Homo sapiens: one gene and its partner. The protein of the gene in region 2 interacts with the protein of the main gene of each other region in a pairwise test. Each region holds a gene or a part of one and is shown on either strand. Other genes may lie near its edges.

Region 1 (8,188 bases), on a different chromosome or scaffold from region 2:
AGTTTCACTATGTTGCCCAGGCTGGTCTGAACCTCCTGATCTCAAACGATCCTCCTGCTTCAGCTTCCCAAAGTGCTGGAATTACAGGCATGAGCCACAGTGCCCATCCAGTTCCCTTAAATTTTGTTGAAAACATAGGAAGCACAAAATCTTGAACTTCCTATCACATATTGGTATTTTATGGGGAAGAGCCATTTTGTAATTGTTAGAAAAACATGTTTTCCTATAGCATAATTTTTATACGTATTTATAGGCCCAAACATATTTAGTCTTTATATTAAATTTAAGAGACCCAGGGCAAACATATTTATGGTCAGCAATTTGTTCCAGTTTTTGTCTTATTTGGAAATAACTCACATAGTTAATGAGTATCCATTACCTAATAGAGGATTTCAAATTACATTAAAAAGCCGATAGATACTTATCCCATTTACCTTTACATACTTTATTTATTTTTAGCAGTTTACCAGGATTACTTATGAGAACTGATATATTAGACAAAGCTAGTCATCATTTCAAATTATTTATCTGTTAATTACCTTTATATAGCTGGATGTCAGGCAACTATCATAAAAGTAAGAACCTTTAAGGCCGGATGCTGTGGCTCACGCCTGTAATCCCAGCACTTTAGGAGGCCGAGGTGGGCAGATCACGAGGTCAGGAGATCAAGACCATCCTGGCTAACACAGTGAAACCCCATCTCTACTAAAAAAAAAAAAAAAATACAAAAAATTAGCCGGGCGTGGTGGCAGGCGCCTGTAGTCCCAGCTACTCGGGAGGCTGAGGAAGGAGAATGGCGTGAACCCGGGAGGCAGAGCTTGCAGTGAGCCGAGATCACGCCACTGCACTCCAGCCTGGGCGACAGAGCGAGACTCCGTCTCAAAAAAAAAAAAAAAAAAGTAAGAACCTTTAAGTTACATTTCAGAAGGCACACCATTCCCATCAAACCAACAATTTTAGACTAGTTCCATTCACCAAAAGATTACTGTCATGTGAACTTGAAAAGCACTTGGTCTTATTTGCTTAGTTTATGAGTACTCATTTCTTTATAAGCCAATTCGGTACCATAGCCAAATATAACCGGACGTGTACATACTACCAGATACAAATAACGATCCTATAGCTTTAACTTTTAAAGGTTTAGCCATGGGTCAGGTAAAATTCACTACTTAAAAGACAGTTCCAACTCTGTCTCCGTCCAACTAACAATTTTAGCTAAAATTTATCTCTCCCATACAGCAGAAGCCCTTTCCTAAATTTTAGGAAGAACACGGTAGAAAGGAGACAGGCAAAAATTTGGCTCTAGTGTCGGAAAACCCGTGAGTCTCTCCCACAGCAATTGTTACCCGATCTAGGGGTTCCCAGATCATAGAGGAGTCCCCAAGTCCCATCACTTCTGGTCACTATTAGCAAACTGTAGCATCTGGTGGGCTGATTGACGGGGAAGTTTCTTTCCCTACCCACTGGGGACAGTTAGGACACTCTAGTACCCAATGGCCCTCTTGTTTACAATATGCACACTGTTGTGTTCTCAAGGGCGGGAGGCCCTTTGGCCGGGCAGTGGGGTCCCTAGGGATCTTACTTATGGCTGATCATCTCCAGTGAACTGTTTTGTTTTTTTGTTTTTTGTTTTTTTCAAGAAAGAGTTTTGCTCTTGTCGCACAGGCTAGAGTGCAATGGCGCGATATCAGCTTACAACCTTCGCTTCCTGGGTTGAAGCGATTCTCCTGCTTCAGCCTCCCGAGTAGTTGGGATTACAAGTGCCCACCACCATGCCTGGCTAATTTTTTATATTTTTAGTAGAGACAGGGTTAGCCATGTTGGCCACGCTGGTCTTGAACTCCTGACCTCAGGTGATCCTCCCGCCTCAGCCTCCCAAAGTGCTGGGATTACGGACATGAGCCACCACGCCTGGCCGCAGTGAACTGTTTCTTGTGTACTGGCTGGTTGTAGCCAAGAGACTCGATGGCTTCTTGTCTTGTGTTGCCTTTTTGTTTTTTGTTTTTTGTTTTTTTTTTGCCCTTCCTGGACCTGGCCACAGTTGCTCAATACCTTAAGGGTAATCTCAACCAATGGAGATGTCAGCATCCCCAGTGTCCCTTCTGCTTTTTGTAGTTTATCCGCATGGCTTCTGCCACTGGAGTCCTGCTACAATTACTGTTTTCCCATATTACCCACCCAGCAGCTTAGAGGCGGGATTGGTGGTGACACAGATCCCACAACTCTTGGCCCACACTCAACTAGTTTTAAAAATATATTGGTGGGGAGGGGCGGGCATGGTGGCTCATGCCTATAATCACCACGCTTTGGGAGGCCGAGGTGGGTGGATCACTTGAGCTTAGGAGTTCGAGACCAACCTAGGTAAGATGGTGAAACCCTGTCTCTATAATATTAGGTTGGTTCAAAAGTAACCGCTGTTTTTGCCATTGAAAGTAATGGCAAAAACTGCAATTACTTTTGTACCAATCTAATTTTTTAAAAATTAATTAATTAAAAAAAATTGGAAGGCATAGATTTCACTCGGCAAGGCAGGAAATCTTGTAACTGCTCTATACTGTGGCTCTGCCGACCGCCCGGCACTGCTCCAGCAGATGCAAACTGCCCGAGATTTTGATGAATTCACTGAAGGAAATAAAGACATTGTGTTTAAAAACACAGCAGAAAGGTTGGGTGTGGTGGCTTATGCCTGTAATCTCAGCACTTTAGGAGGCTGAAGGGGGTGGATCACTTGAGCTCAGGAGTTTGAGACCAGACTGGACAACATAGCAAGACCCCATCTCAAAAAAAAAATTAGCTGGGTGCGTGCCTGTAGTTTCAGCTACTTGGGAGGCTGAGATGGGAGGACTGCTTGAACCTGGAAGTTGGAGGTTGCAGTGAGCCACAGTCGAGCCACTGCACTCCAGCCTGGGTGACAGAGCCGGACCTTGTCTCAAAATTAAAAAAAAAAAAAACCCACTGCAGAAGACCTTCAGAATTGCTTGCCTCTAGAAACCATGCTTTCCTCAGAACATCTAACCCTTCAAAAACTACAGCAGCAGCCAGAACCCACCATTCACGCTGACGCATTCCTTTGTGATAAAGACTTCATTGATTCATTATGTGACAAAGGGAAAATGAGCAGAAACTACTGGGTGGTTCACACCAAACAGAACCTTTAGACCGATTGCTCGTTCCTTCTCCCTCATGGAATTGAAGTTCATTTATCTTCATGCACTCCCTGATCAATCAGGAAAGGCTGTGGCTGACGTCAGCTCCAGGCTCAGCACAGTCTTTATGGGGTGATCTTATAGCTTAGCAGTGCAACCCTGTGGAGTAGAACTGAACGGAGACTTTTGCCAGTTGCAGGAAATGGTCATTAAAAAATACCAGTTTATTCACAGAATAAAGGTGCTTCATGCAGACATCTGTCCCCAGGGTTTCTTCTGCAAAATGCTGATGCTGCTATCATGAATAATGTCTTCAAATATTCTCTTAATGAGGCAGAACAAGCCGGAGCTGGGAATACATTTGTCATAATGTAAGGAAGCAGATCATCATCAGTGACAGTGCCAAGTCTTGAAGATTCTCTCCTGGGTCTTCAGACTAATACACATTTATCTCCCTGGGTTGAAGAAGTACTGTGGGACTATGATGTATACCCACAAAAGGATATTGACAAAGAAGCTCTTTATTTATTTATTTATTTATTTATTTATTTATTTATTTATTTATTTTCTTTTGAGACAAGGTCTCACTGTGTTGTCTAGCCTGGAATGCAGCCATACGATAACGGCTCACTGTACTCACGGTACGATTACCTCCAACTCCCCGTGCTCAAGTGATTCTCCCGCCTCAGCCTCCTGAGTAGCTGGGGCCACAGCTGTGTGTGCCACCACCTGGCTAATTTTTTTTTTTTTTTTTTTTTGAGACAGAGTTTCGCTCTTGTCGCCCAGGCTGTAGTGCAATGGCATGATCTCGGCTCACTGCAACCTCTGCCTCATGCCTCAGCCTCCCAAGTAGCTGGGATTACAGGCACCCACCACCATGCCTGGATAAATTTTGTATTTTTAGTACAGACGGGGTTTTGCCATGTTGCCCAGGCTGGTCTTACACTCCTGACATCAGGTGATCCACTCGCCTCAGCCTCCCAAAGTGCTGGGATTATAGGTGTGAGCCACCGCGCCCACCCTAATTTTTTTTTTTTTTTTGGTAGAGACAGGGTCTCCCTATGTTGCCCAGGCTGGTCTTGAACACCTAGGCTCAAGCAATCTGCCCCCCTTGGCCTCCCAAAGTGTTGGGGTTACAGGTGTGAGCCACTGCACCCAGCTGACAAAGAAGCTCTTGAACAAATTCATTTAATGAGATTCTCTAGCACTAAAATAGTCCTACCTCATTGTAATGTTTTGTAGAGTATCTTATAAAACAATGAAAAAAAACCAGTATTTTAATACATATTTTTCTGTATATTTCCTTCTAGCCTTTGTACATATGATCACATATTTGTAAAAAGTTGTATGTATATATATACAACTTTACCCGCTTTGTGTGATGATATGACAAAAACATTTATCTGAAAAAAGTATTTTTTTCATCAAATGGCAGAGCTCCTGTTTCTGGTAACCCGGGGTATGGCAAGTAGGGGCTCTGGGAGATGGAGCAGCTCAGCCTCCTGTGAAAAATTCTGTTTCTCTAAAAAAGAACAAATTCTCATGCTGGGCGCGGTGGCTCACGCCTGTAATCTCAGCACTTTGGGAGGCCGAGGCGGGCGGATCACGAGGTCAAGAGATCGAGACCATCCTGGCTAACACGGTGAAACCCCGTCTCTACTAAAAATGCAAAAAATTAGCCGGGCGTGGTGGCGGGCGCCTGTGGTCCCAGCTACTCAGGAAGCTGAGGCAGGAGAATGGCGTGAACCCGGGAGGTGGAGCTTGCAGTGAGCCGAGATCGCGCCACTGCACCCCAGCTTGGGTGACAGAGCCAGACTCTGTCTCAAAAAAAAAAAAACGAATTCCCAAAACTAGTCCCACTGTTGTCTACCCAGATCCGGGATCCGGGTTGCCCTTGGCCTGGCCAGAGATGCCTCTCAATCCCCCACGGCACGTAGAGCCAGACAGAAACCGAAAGCAGAGGTGCCCTGCGCTGAAGTCTAGAGATCCCACTGCTAGGTCCAAAGAATTTACCCTTTCAGTCAACCCACGGGGCAAAGTCCACTTTCTTCCCTGAAGGAGCAGCACAGAACAAAAGCTCCAGGCAGCTGCTTCCGCTGTTTCGGGGGTAGGGCGGAGTGACAGCCCCACGGGCCACGCAGCAAGCAGAAGATCCCCGGGAGTCACCCTCAACCCTCTGGGGCCACGTGGGTGAGTTCGCCCGGGGAAGGTGCCGCGGCCCACTGCTTTACCTTAGTGAGCCTCAAGAAGTTAGGATCAGAATCCCAGTCGGCCCCATCTGGGTCGCCAGAGTTTTGTTACCCACACAACGGGTGGGCTCAGTTGCTTGGCGGGTGTTAACTAAAGAGGATTTAATAGGGGATTTTATTTCTTGCAACAAGTAAGGAGAACACCTAGACAGCTCCCAAAGCAGTGTCTCCCCGAGCTGAGGGCTGGGGCAGGTTTTATAAGCATAGGGTAATGAGGCGTGATCTGATTGCATCTTGCAATGAGGTGATGCTGGGAGGCATGATCTAATTGGATGCTGACACAGGGGGGAACCACAGCTCTGACCCCTCTCTGGGTCTCAGTTTCCCCAACTGCAGTGAGGAAATTGGCCCCCGTGATGATGCCCATGACATCACCATCCTCTGCCCTCACTCATGCTGGGGTCTCCATGTGCCCATTTTCAAGCTTGTGCCCGCCCTTTGTTCCTCACTCCCCACAGCTGCCCTTGGCCAGGACTTTCACAGGGTGGAGCCAAGGCCCAGAGAGGGCACTGAATCTCTCCAGGTCACACAGCCTGTCAGGGAGGTGGGGCCAGAGCCAGGTCACACGTGTGCACACAACACACACACACGCACACATGCTCACGCACATGCACGCACACACGCTCTCAAGCACATGCACACATGCACACACATGCACACACACTCTCATGCACACACGCACACATGTACACACACATGCATGCACACATGCACACAATACTCTCATGCACATGCACACACGTACACACGCACACATGCATGCTGTCACACATGCGCACACACGCACACATGCTCTCATGCACACACGCACACATGTACACATACATGCACACATGCACACAATACTCATGCACATGCACACACATGTACACACGCACGCACACACGCATGCTGTCACGTACACATGTGAGTGCACACACGCACACACATGCTCTCATGCACACGCACACATGTACAGATGCACACATGCATGCACACACATGCACACACGCGCACACACTGCCAGGACTGGGGGCTGCTGTTTCTGAGGGTTCCTGGACCCCGTTCTGTTCCATAAACACTCACTGAAATGCAGAAGCTGGACCCCAGCCAAGGGAAGTGAAACTTTCCAGCACCCCTACTGCTGTTCTCCCTAAACTTGGGGGCCCAGCACCTTGTGGCAGGAAGCACCCTGGCCCCCAGCAGCCCCCAAAATAGCTAGGTCTGCCACGGAGGCCCTTCCTTCCTGAGAGGTACCACACCGAGTCAGCAGGATCCCAGCCTCTGTGGGGGTTGGGGGGGCCTTCCAACAAAGACCATGGCCTGGGACTCATAAAGCAGCATGGGGGTCCCTGAGACCCCTACCCCAAGCAAGGAAGGAACAGACCCAGGCCGACAGGCTCCTCTGCTGACTCCCTCTCCCACCACCTGCCAAGGACTCAGTCAAGTCACCCAACCCCTAGAGCTTCAGTCCACACCTGCAAAATGGAGCCGGTGACAGCTGCCCCCAGGGCTGGGCCGGATACAGGAGTTGATGGCATGGCATGGCCCCCTAATGGCAGTCTCTGCCCTCCCTTTGCTGAGGCTCCAGGTGCCAGGAGGAGTGGCCCCTGGAGGGGGCTCATAGGGAGCCCCGGCCCACTGGGGGCTCAGCCTCACACTCCATCCACCCCTCTTGACACCCTGTCAAGATCCCAGCTGCCCTGATGGGAGCCAGGATGACAAATCCCCTGTCCCCACAATCGCCATGCTCTGAGCTCACGAAGCCTTGGGTGTGGAGGGCAGGAGAGCCCAGGCCACACAGAGCTGAGTGTGATCTGGGGCAGCTTCCGAGAGGGTGTAACTTAGAGGGTCCTGGCCACCCAGAGCCCCCCAGGCTGGTGGGCCTGGCATCTGGAGCAGGGCTGGACTGGCCCGGGGAGACCCAGTGTGGTGGTAAAGAAGGCCCAGGATCGATGCCTGGGGGAGGCTCCAGCTCAGGGTCCCAGCACCTGGCATCCAGCAGGCCCTGGCGGAGCAGCTTGCCTCACTCCCCAGTGACTTCGGAACTGGCCTCAGCTCCTCCCAGCAGACAGCTGAGCCTGGTGGGAGGTAGAGGCCCCAGGGCTGAGTGCAGGGGACCTCACCTTCATCCTTCCCCACTTTGCTCTTGAGAGGCAGCAGGAGGGGATGGAGCCACATTGGACGCACTGAGTGCCACCTACAGCCCGCCTCTAGGGCTCTGTGCGCCACCTGCAGCCCGCCTCTAGGGCTCTGTGTGCCGCTGAACAGTCTGCCCCTAGGGTTCTGTGGGCCACCTGCAGCCTGCCTCTAGGGCTTGTGTGCCTGCAGACAATTTTCTGAGCCTCAGTTTTCACATCTATAAAATGAGCCTGAGGGTTGTTCCCAAAACAGGGCAAACCGAGTCATCTGAGTTACACTGTCCTTGAAAATGACTGAAATCCCGGATCAAACATTTTAAAATTTTGCTTAAAGCAACAAAGAGCTGTAAAACTGGGGCTCCACATGGCACCTTTGGGTAAGGGCGACTCAGGAGTGACCACAGCCCTCTCCGGGCTGCAAGGACAGAGGCATGTTGCCGAGGTGGTGAAGGAGGGGCAGCTTGTCATCTTGGTGGCCATCAAGGTGACACCTCTATAGTAACTTTCAATAGCCTGCTCTGGTGGTGACCAAAACCAAGTCACCACCCCACTGCGGGTGTACCTCTTAGTAGTGTTAAGGAAGGTGGCCCCTCTGGGGCCCAGCAGAAGGACGAAGGGCAGGGGCAGGAACTTGCCCGCAGGACCTGGACTCGTTGGGCCGTGGCAGCACAAG
Region 2 (8,013 bases):
TGCTCCTAAATTAAATGATTGGTAACATCCTTCTTGTGTGACATTATAATAAAGGAAGAAAAACAGACTAAAAAACGGAATAGAAAGAAAGAAAAGGGGAAGAAATAATCTTGGATTCTCAAAATGATGGTCCTTGGATCAGAATATATTGTGGTGGTCAGAGTGATGCTCAAGTAAATTATAGGACCAGGAAAAATTTTGGGCATTAGTTTGTTGGCTAACTTCTTGGCAGTAGAGAAATTGGTCAGCCGATCTGGATGCCACATATTTGGCTGCTGATATGCCACAGAGAGGATTTCCATTACCCTTCAAGGCTACTCATTTTGGACAAGTATAACCAGAGCAGTTCATATCCTGGCTAGTGCTGCATCTATACTGGAGATAGGGAATTTTGGGAAAGGTAATCCTCAGTGTGGTTTGGTGACCCTGGTGCCTTTGCTTTTCAGACTTGTGTGTCGGGGGTGGAGTTGGGGGGGGGAGGGTTGGTTATTCGATTAGGCAACTGTTAAGGGGGTCGCCTGACTATTTCAGTTTTGGAGACTGCTGCGTGAGCCAGTACCAGAGATCTTGGCTGGTCATAGCAGAATATGGCAGCTCTATACCTTGTTGCCTTTCAGTCCGGGTGACCAGAATACCAGCCCACCTCTCTTCCAGTTCTTCTGGGAGAGAGAATCTGATTGGCTGAGTTTAGGTCTCTACTTCTGTTCTAATCATCCATAGCCGGGGGCTTAGAGTCAAAGCACACAAACCTGATCAGCAGATTATCCTGATGGATTGAAGGAAAGGAAGTGGGGAAGTTCTCTGAAAAGGGAAAATGTGGCCTGTGTGCTCAAAGATGGTTACAATAATGTGTTATATATTAGAAGCTTTCAAGGTGCCAGAGAAGAAATTACTCAATTTACCAGTTGCTTATTTATGGCATCTGTGTTGTTAGGAGCTGAAGGAGTGATTAGTTTGTGAATGAACAGATTTTGAATTAACTAGTTGTGAATTAATGTGGGACAAGATCATAAGATTTGATGGCCTGAACTTCTGTCACTGCTGCCTTGCTTCCTCCTCCAAAAATGGTCTGGAGGGCAGGGCTTGGTAGCTCACACCTGTAATTCCAGCGCTTTGAGAGGCAAGAGGATCGCTTGAAGCCAGGATTTCTGGGTTACAGCTAGCTCTGATCTTGACACTGCACTCCAGCCTGAGCGACAGAGGGAGACCCTGTCTCAAACTAGTCTGTAGAAGAGCTAAGCACAGGGATGGAGGAGAGCAGGAGTTGAGTTTCTGGAATCACTTACCTCTTCTTTAACCAGAGCAGCTTTTTCTTTACCCTTCCAGTTGCATATTTCCAATATTGTGGTCTGCTGGTGGCAGTCATTCACAAAAAGGTCCCTGCTACACTTTAACCTGGTTAATCTACTTTCCCTACTTCTCATCACTCAATGGGGAGGAGGGGGATCTATTGTAGTGACTTTTTTTTTTTTTTTAAGGATCTCCCTTCTGTATTCTTCATCCCCTTCTTTTCATGCATTGAGAATTTATTCTGTGTGTGTCTCAGAATGAGAGAGAATGTGCCTGTGAGAATCTGGTTGTGCATTTGGCCTGAGAGAGCCAGCGATGATAACTTTATCAATAGATACTGGGTAAACCAGAACATTTACCAAACTGGGTAAATTTGTTGTGTCATAATTCGAAGATCAGATTTGGGTCTTTCATGCTAAGAAGCCTAAGTAATTCTGTAACAGAAGGTCTTCTGTCTAGAAGGCTTAAGTGTTTGGTTTCCTTACACCTACCAGGAGTCACCATCCTGATAACTTCAAGTGCTGTTAGGATGCAGCAGGAGAATGGGAAGTTAATGGGGGATTTGAGGTTAGAGGTCCTCATCACGCTCCTCTCCCCATTTATTGGGCAGGGATACAGACTAATAGCTATGATAGATATAACAGAATCTTCCATATGATTCAAAGCTATTATGGGATGCAACTAAAATTTCCAAGGCTTCACCTGAGCTCATGTCTATGAAAGCACGTTCGAAACAAAATATATTTAACTTAAAGTGAAATAGGCTGGGCGCAGTGGCTCAAGGCTGTAATCTCAGCATTTTGGGAGCCTGGGGCGGGTGGATCACCTGATGTCACATTTTTTATTCTCTCATTTCCATTTCTCATATTTTTTAAATGAAAGCAATATTTGTGCAGACAGTACTGAAAAAATTCAAAATAGTGAAAGTCTTCCCTTTTCCATTAAATCCCACTCCCATTATGCTTTTAACCATTTTTGTTTGTTTGTTTTTAGGGTTTTATTGTTGTTCCAAAAGTCTAAAAATATACCATGCCTTTCTCTCTATATTTTTTCAACTCAAAAAAAATATTTCTTAACTTTTTGCTAGATAAGAAATTTAGGTCATTTTCCACCTGTCCTAGACTTTGATTTCTATCAGTTACATTTTGGTTCCTAATTTTGCTGTTATTTTTAACTTTTTATTATAAATTTCTGTTTATTGACCTATCACTTTTAGACAGTATATTTGGCCCTTCATGTCTGTGAATGACTTATCTTTGGTTTCAACCAACCTTGGATCAAAAATATTCAGGAAAAAAGGTTGGTTACATCTGTACTGAACATGTACAGACTTTTTTCCTTGTCAGTATTTCCTAAACAGTATAGTATAACAACCATTTCATAGCATTTGCCATATATTAGGTATTGTAAACTAGAAATGATGTAAAGTACGTAGGAGGATGTGTATAGCTTATATGCAAATACTATGCCATTTCATGTAAGAGACTTGAGCATTCTTGGATTTTGGTATCTGCAGGGGACCCTGGTACCAGCCCCCTACGGATACTGAGAGACAACTATATTTCCTCACTTCCTGGTCTTTCAGAAAAAGATATAACACCGATCCCTTTCCTTTTGGGATTTAAAAGCCAAACCTTGCCTTTGTTTTTCCCTCCTCCCTTCCTAGCCTTTGTTTTCTTTTTTCCTTTTTTTTTTGAGACAGGATTTTGCTCTTGTTGCCCAGGCTGGAGAGCAATGGCGCCATCTTGGCTCACTGCAACCTCCGCCTCCTGGGTTCAAGCGATTCTCCTGCCTCAGCCTCGCGATTAGCTGGGATTACAGGCACCTGCAACCATGCCTGGCTAATTTTTGTATTTGTAATAGAGACAGGGTTTCACCATGTTGGTCAGGCTGGTCTTGAACTCCTGACCTCCGGTGATCCACTCCCCCTCCCTTGGCCTCCCAAAGTGGTGGGATTACAGGCATGAGCCGCTGAGCCCGGCCCCAGCCTTTGTTTTTGGTTAGTACTGTTACATTGGCAAGATTTATTGCATTTATATAATGTTTTATAACTCTTCTAAAGTTTTCTGTGCTTCTGCAGGAAAATCTAGAAATTGAGTACTAATAGCCACTCTTTTAAATATGTATGTTGACATGAGTATTAGTTACTATAGAACCAAGTACTGTGGAGCCATAGAGAAACTTCACTTCTGTTAAACCTGTGATCCTTAAAAAGGAAATATAACAAAGTCAGCCGGGCACAGTGGCTCACGTCTGTAAGCCCAGCACTTTGAGAGGCCCAGGCAGGCGGATCGCCTCAGGTCAGGAGTTAGAGACCAGCCTGGCTAACATGGTGAAACCCCGTCTCTACTAAAAATGCAAAAATTAGCCCGACGTGGTGGTGGGCACCTGTAATCCCAGCTACTCGGGAGGCTGAGGCAGGAGAATTGCTTGAACCCGGGAGGTGGAGGTTGCAGTGAGCCAAGATCATGTCATTGCACTCCAGGCTGGGTGACAAAGCAAGGCTTCGTCTCAGGAAAAAAAAAAAAAAAAGAAATATAACAAAGTCCTGGTTGAATGAGGAAAGCTCATTGAAGTTATTTTTAAAATTTAATATTATAATGGGTTCTCATGTTGTAGCCATTCAGCTTGTCTTGGTAGACTTTCCGGAGTCTTGGCCTGCCTTTTCTAATTTGGGAAGCTTAGTAGACCTGTTACCCAGCTGTCATCCTGGGATTACTTCACATTGTTCTCCTGGGTTAGATCTATTGTTATTTGGATCCCATGTTTTTCTCTTTTAGATACCTTTTTTATTTTACAGGAATACAGCCTTCAATAGTTGTTTCTGGAAGGATATGCTGGTGATAAACTTTCTGAGTTCTCGAATGTTGAAAATGGCTTGTCTTTGTTCCTGATTGAAAGTTTACATGTGGAATTATAAATTCCTCAGAATTTTGAAAACTTTGCTGTGGGAATCTAAAATACTTGGTGTGCTAATCAGAGGTCCATTGCAGATCTGATGGTTATTCTCCTGTAGAAGATTGTAATCTACAATTGTAGTCTACGATCTACGGGATTTGTTTACATTCTGAAAGGTTTCTTTGATTTTGTCTTTGAACTTTTCTATAAAATTTATTTCAGTAGTTATCTTTAATTTATAAGAGTTCTTCTATCATCTTTCATTTTTCTTTCTTTTTAAATAGCAACCTGTCCTTGATTTATGGGGAAATACCTTGAATTTCTCTGATGCTAATTTCTCTAGAGTTCTTGAGACACTTCCCTGAATTGGTGACTCTAACAGTGGGTTTGTATTTAGGTATTCCATACTAATTTTTGTATTTTAAATATTTAAGTTATTTGATAAGTACAAAAGATTATAACAGGTAAGGCGTATGTAAACAAACATACATATAATTACCAACCAGTTTACTAATTCATTAGTGTAACTTTAGCAGGATGCACTTTCCTGATCACATCCACTGCAACCATGTCCACCTTCACCAATGACAGTAGCCATTGTACTGAATTTTGGATTCATCATTCCTGGTCTGTCTTTATACTTTTAACATATATACATATGTAAAATTTATTTATTTATTTATTTATTTTTTGAGACGGAGTTTTGCTCTTCTTGCCCAGGCTGGAGTGCAGTGGCGCGATCTTGACTCACCGCAACCTCCTCCTCCCAGGTTCAAGCAATTTTACTGCCTCAGCCTCCCGAGTAGCCGGGATTACAGGTGTGCACCATGCCCGGCTAATTTTTTTGTATTATTAGTTTTCACCATGTTGGCCAGGCTGGTCTTGAACTCCTGACTTCAGGTGATCCACCCGCCTTGGCCTCCCAAAGTGCTGGGATCACAGGTGTGAGCTACTGTGTCTGGCCATCCATATTTCTTAAATCCAAATGTTTGAAAATGAAGAGAAAAAAACTGTAAAGTTTCACCAAACTTGTCTTGCAGAAAAACCCTGACCTGCACTGATATTGTAATCTTTGTTGATCTCACTTAGTGTGAATATTTGTATGTTTCACTGTAGAGATTCTAGGAATAGAATTGCTGGTATTTAAGAAGAATGTGTGCATATTCACCAATATTGGATAATGTCAGATTATCTTCCAAAAAAGGTGGTGTCAGTCTTCGTTCTCTCCAGCAATGCAGAAGTTTTCATTACTCAGCTTTCTTGCTAACATCTACTTTTGTCACACTTCAAAAGGTTTTATCGGTTGGGCATGGTAGCTCACGCCTGTAATCCTAGCACTTTGGGAGGCCATGGTGGGTGGATGGCTTGAGACCAGGAGTTTGAGACCAGCCTGGGTAAAATGGTGAAACCCCATCTCTACCAAAACAAAACAAAATTAGCTGGGCATAGTGGCCCACACCTGTAGTCCCAGCTACTTGGCAGGCTGAGATGGGAGGATCACCTGAAGCTAGGAAGTGAGCTGTGATCATGCCATTGCACGCCAGCTTGGGCAACAGAGTGAGACCCTGTTTCAAAAAAAAAAGTTTTTACCCACGAGTATAAAATACCACCTTTTAGTTTTCATTTGCTTTGCTAATGAGTTTGAGCATCTTTTACTATACTGATTAGCCATTCTTCCCTTTTCTCACATTCCTATTCATGTCTTTTGCCCATGTTTGTACTAGTTTTTTAAAAAAATTATTTCATACTGATTTTTAATAGTTTCACAGTTGGATGCATGTGGTGCAAATTTCTCCTTTCAATTGGGCTCACTTTTAAATCATTTTTATTTTTATTTTTTGAGATGGAGTCTCACTCTGTAGCCCTGGCTGGAGTGCAGTGGCGTGATCTCAGTTTACTGCACCCTCCACCCCCAAGGTTCAAGAGATTCTCCTGTCTCAGACTTCTGAGTAGCTGGGATTACAGGTACCCGCCACCATGCCTGGCTAATATTTGTATTTTTAATAGAGACGGGGTTTCACCATGTTGGTCAAGCTGGTCTCGAACTCCTGACCTCAGGTGATCTGCCCACCTTGGTCTCCCAAAGTGCTGGGATTATAGGCATGAGCAACTGCATCCAGCCTTATGCGTTTTTTGATGAGTAGAAGTTCTTAATTTTTATGTGATTGCATTTATCAGGCTTTTCTTTATGGATAGTGCTTTTGAATCTTGTTGAAGAAATTTTTCAACAGAGTTCTCGAAGATATTTTCCATTATTGTAAAAGTATAAGACGTAGTTTTTTTGTTTTTTGTTTTTGTTTTTTTTTTACCTTTTCTCATTTAAGGTTTTAATCCACCTGGAGTTGATTTTGTATACAGTGTGAAGTGGTGACCAAGATGCATGGTTTTTCCTCAAAGAATAATAAATTGTTCCATCACCTTTCATGCAAATTTTTTTCTTCACTGGTTTGGATGCCATCACTCATCTGTGCTTTGGTTCTGGACTCTGGGCCGTTAGTCTGTTTTTACAGAAATTGTTAAAAAGTTACAGTAACTAAAACAAGATGATGCTGCTGCTAGCATAAACAAACTTCTTGCCTGGTGAGGTGGCTCAAGGCTGTAATCCCATCACTTTGGGAGGCCATGGTGGGAGCATCACTTGAGCCAGGAGTTCAAGACCAGCCTGGGCAACATGGTGAGACCCCATCTCTGTGTAAGATAATATTTTTTATAATAAAAAACCAAACTTCTTTTGATATATAGCATACACATAGGAAGTACACAGATAATGAAATTATAGCTGGATGAATTTTCTCAAAATAATAATCGTGCAGGTCAAGAAAGAGAACATTACCAGCACTCTAAATATTCCCCTCCCCAGTGGCTAACCTCACCTCATTCTTCCAAAAGCGACCTACTATCCTAACTTTAACAGATTAGTATTGCCTGTTTTTGAACTTTATATAAATGGAACCTGTGTAGTATATATACAGTTGCCCCTTGGTGTACCTGGGGGATTGGTTCTAGGATCCACCCTCCCAACAGGAAAATCATGTGTACTCAAGTCCTGAAGTTGGCCCTGCAGAACCCATGTATAGGAAAAGTTGGCCCTCTGTATATGTGGGTTTCACGTCCTGCAAATACCATATTTTTGATCTGCATTTGGTTGAAAAAAAAATATGCGTATAAGTGGACCTGCACAGTTCAAACCAGTTGACAAGATACAGTTGACCTTTGACTAACACAGGTTTTTGTTATTGGATATGTTATTGTTATTCAATATTCAACTATATGTTATTGTTATTCAAAGGTCAACTGTATTCTGTTTCTGTATATGTATTCTGTTGTTTCTGCCTTTTTTTCTGTTTCGTTTGCCAGATTCATCCTTATTGTTGTCTGTAGTTGTAGTTGGTTCATTCCCTTTTGCTAGTGATATAGTAGAGTTCCAGTTGCTCCATATCCTTGTCTACCCTTTTAATTTTAGACACTCTGGTGAATGTGTAGTGGTTTTAATTTGCATCTCCCTAATAAGTAATGATGTCAAGCTCCTTTGAATGTGCTTATTGGCCATTTGGGTTTCTTTTGTAAAGTGGCTTGCCAAGTCTTTTACTCATTTTTATATTGGGACATCTGTCTTTTCCATACTGATTCGTAGGAGTTCATTATACATCTTGGAAACCATCTCTTGCTGGTTATGTTTTGCACATACCTTCTCTTGTTTCCCCTGAGTCTATTCAGAGTTCTGCTGGACTTTTAACCTCTCCATTGCCCTTTTCCATTGGCAGATATCTCCGGGGAAGGCATCAAGAGACTCAGCTTTGCAGGCTCTCCTTCTTTTCAGAGTCT

The links. Proteins that work in one complex are often made in the same cells at the same time.
Region 1: the proteins of PIAS2 (region 2) and ACY3 interact in binary tests that used the Homo sapiens proteins (3 or more experiments, as listed by UniProt).

Annotation. Positions count from the first base shown.
Region 1 is NC_000011.10:67,647,731-67,655,918, reverse strand, and holds the start of ACY3 (N-acyl-aromatic-L-amino acid amidohydrolase (carboxylate-forming)), read left to right. Parts: upstream 1-5,188; 5' UTR 5,189-5,336; intron 5,337-8,188. UniProt on the Homo sapiens protein: Plays an important role in deacetylating mercapturic acids in kidney proximal tubules. Also acts on N-acetyl-aromatic amino acids.
Region 2 is NC_000018.10:46,907,024-46,915,036, reverse strand, and holds part of PIAS2 (E3 SUMO-protein ligase PIAS2), read left to right. Parts: intron 1-8,013. UniProt on the Homo sapiens protein: Functions as an E3-type small ubiquitin-like modifier (SUMO) ligase, stabilizing the interaction between UBE2I and the substrate, and as a SUMO-tethering factor.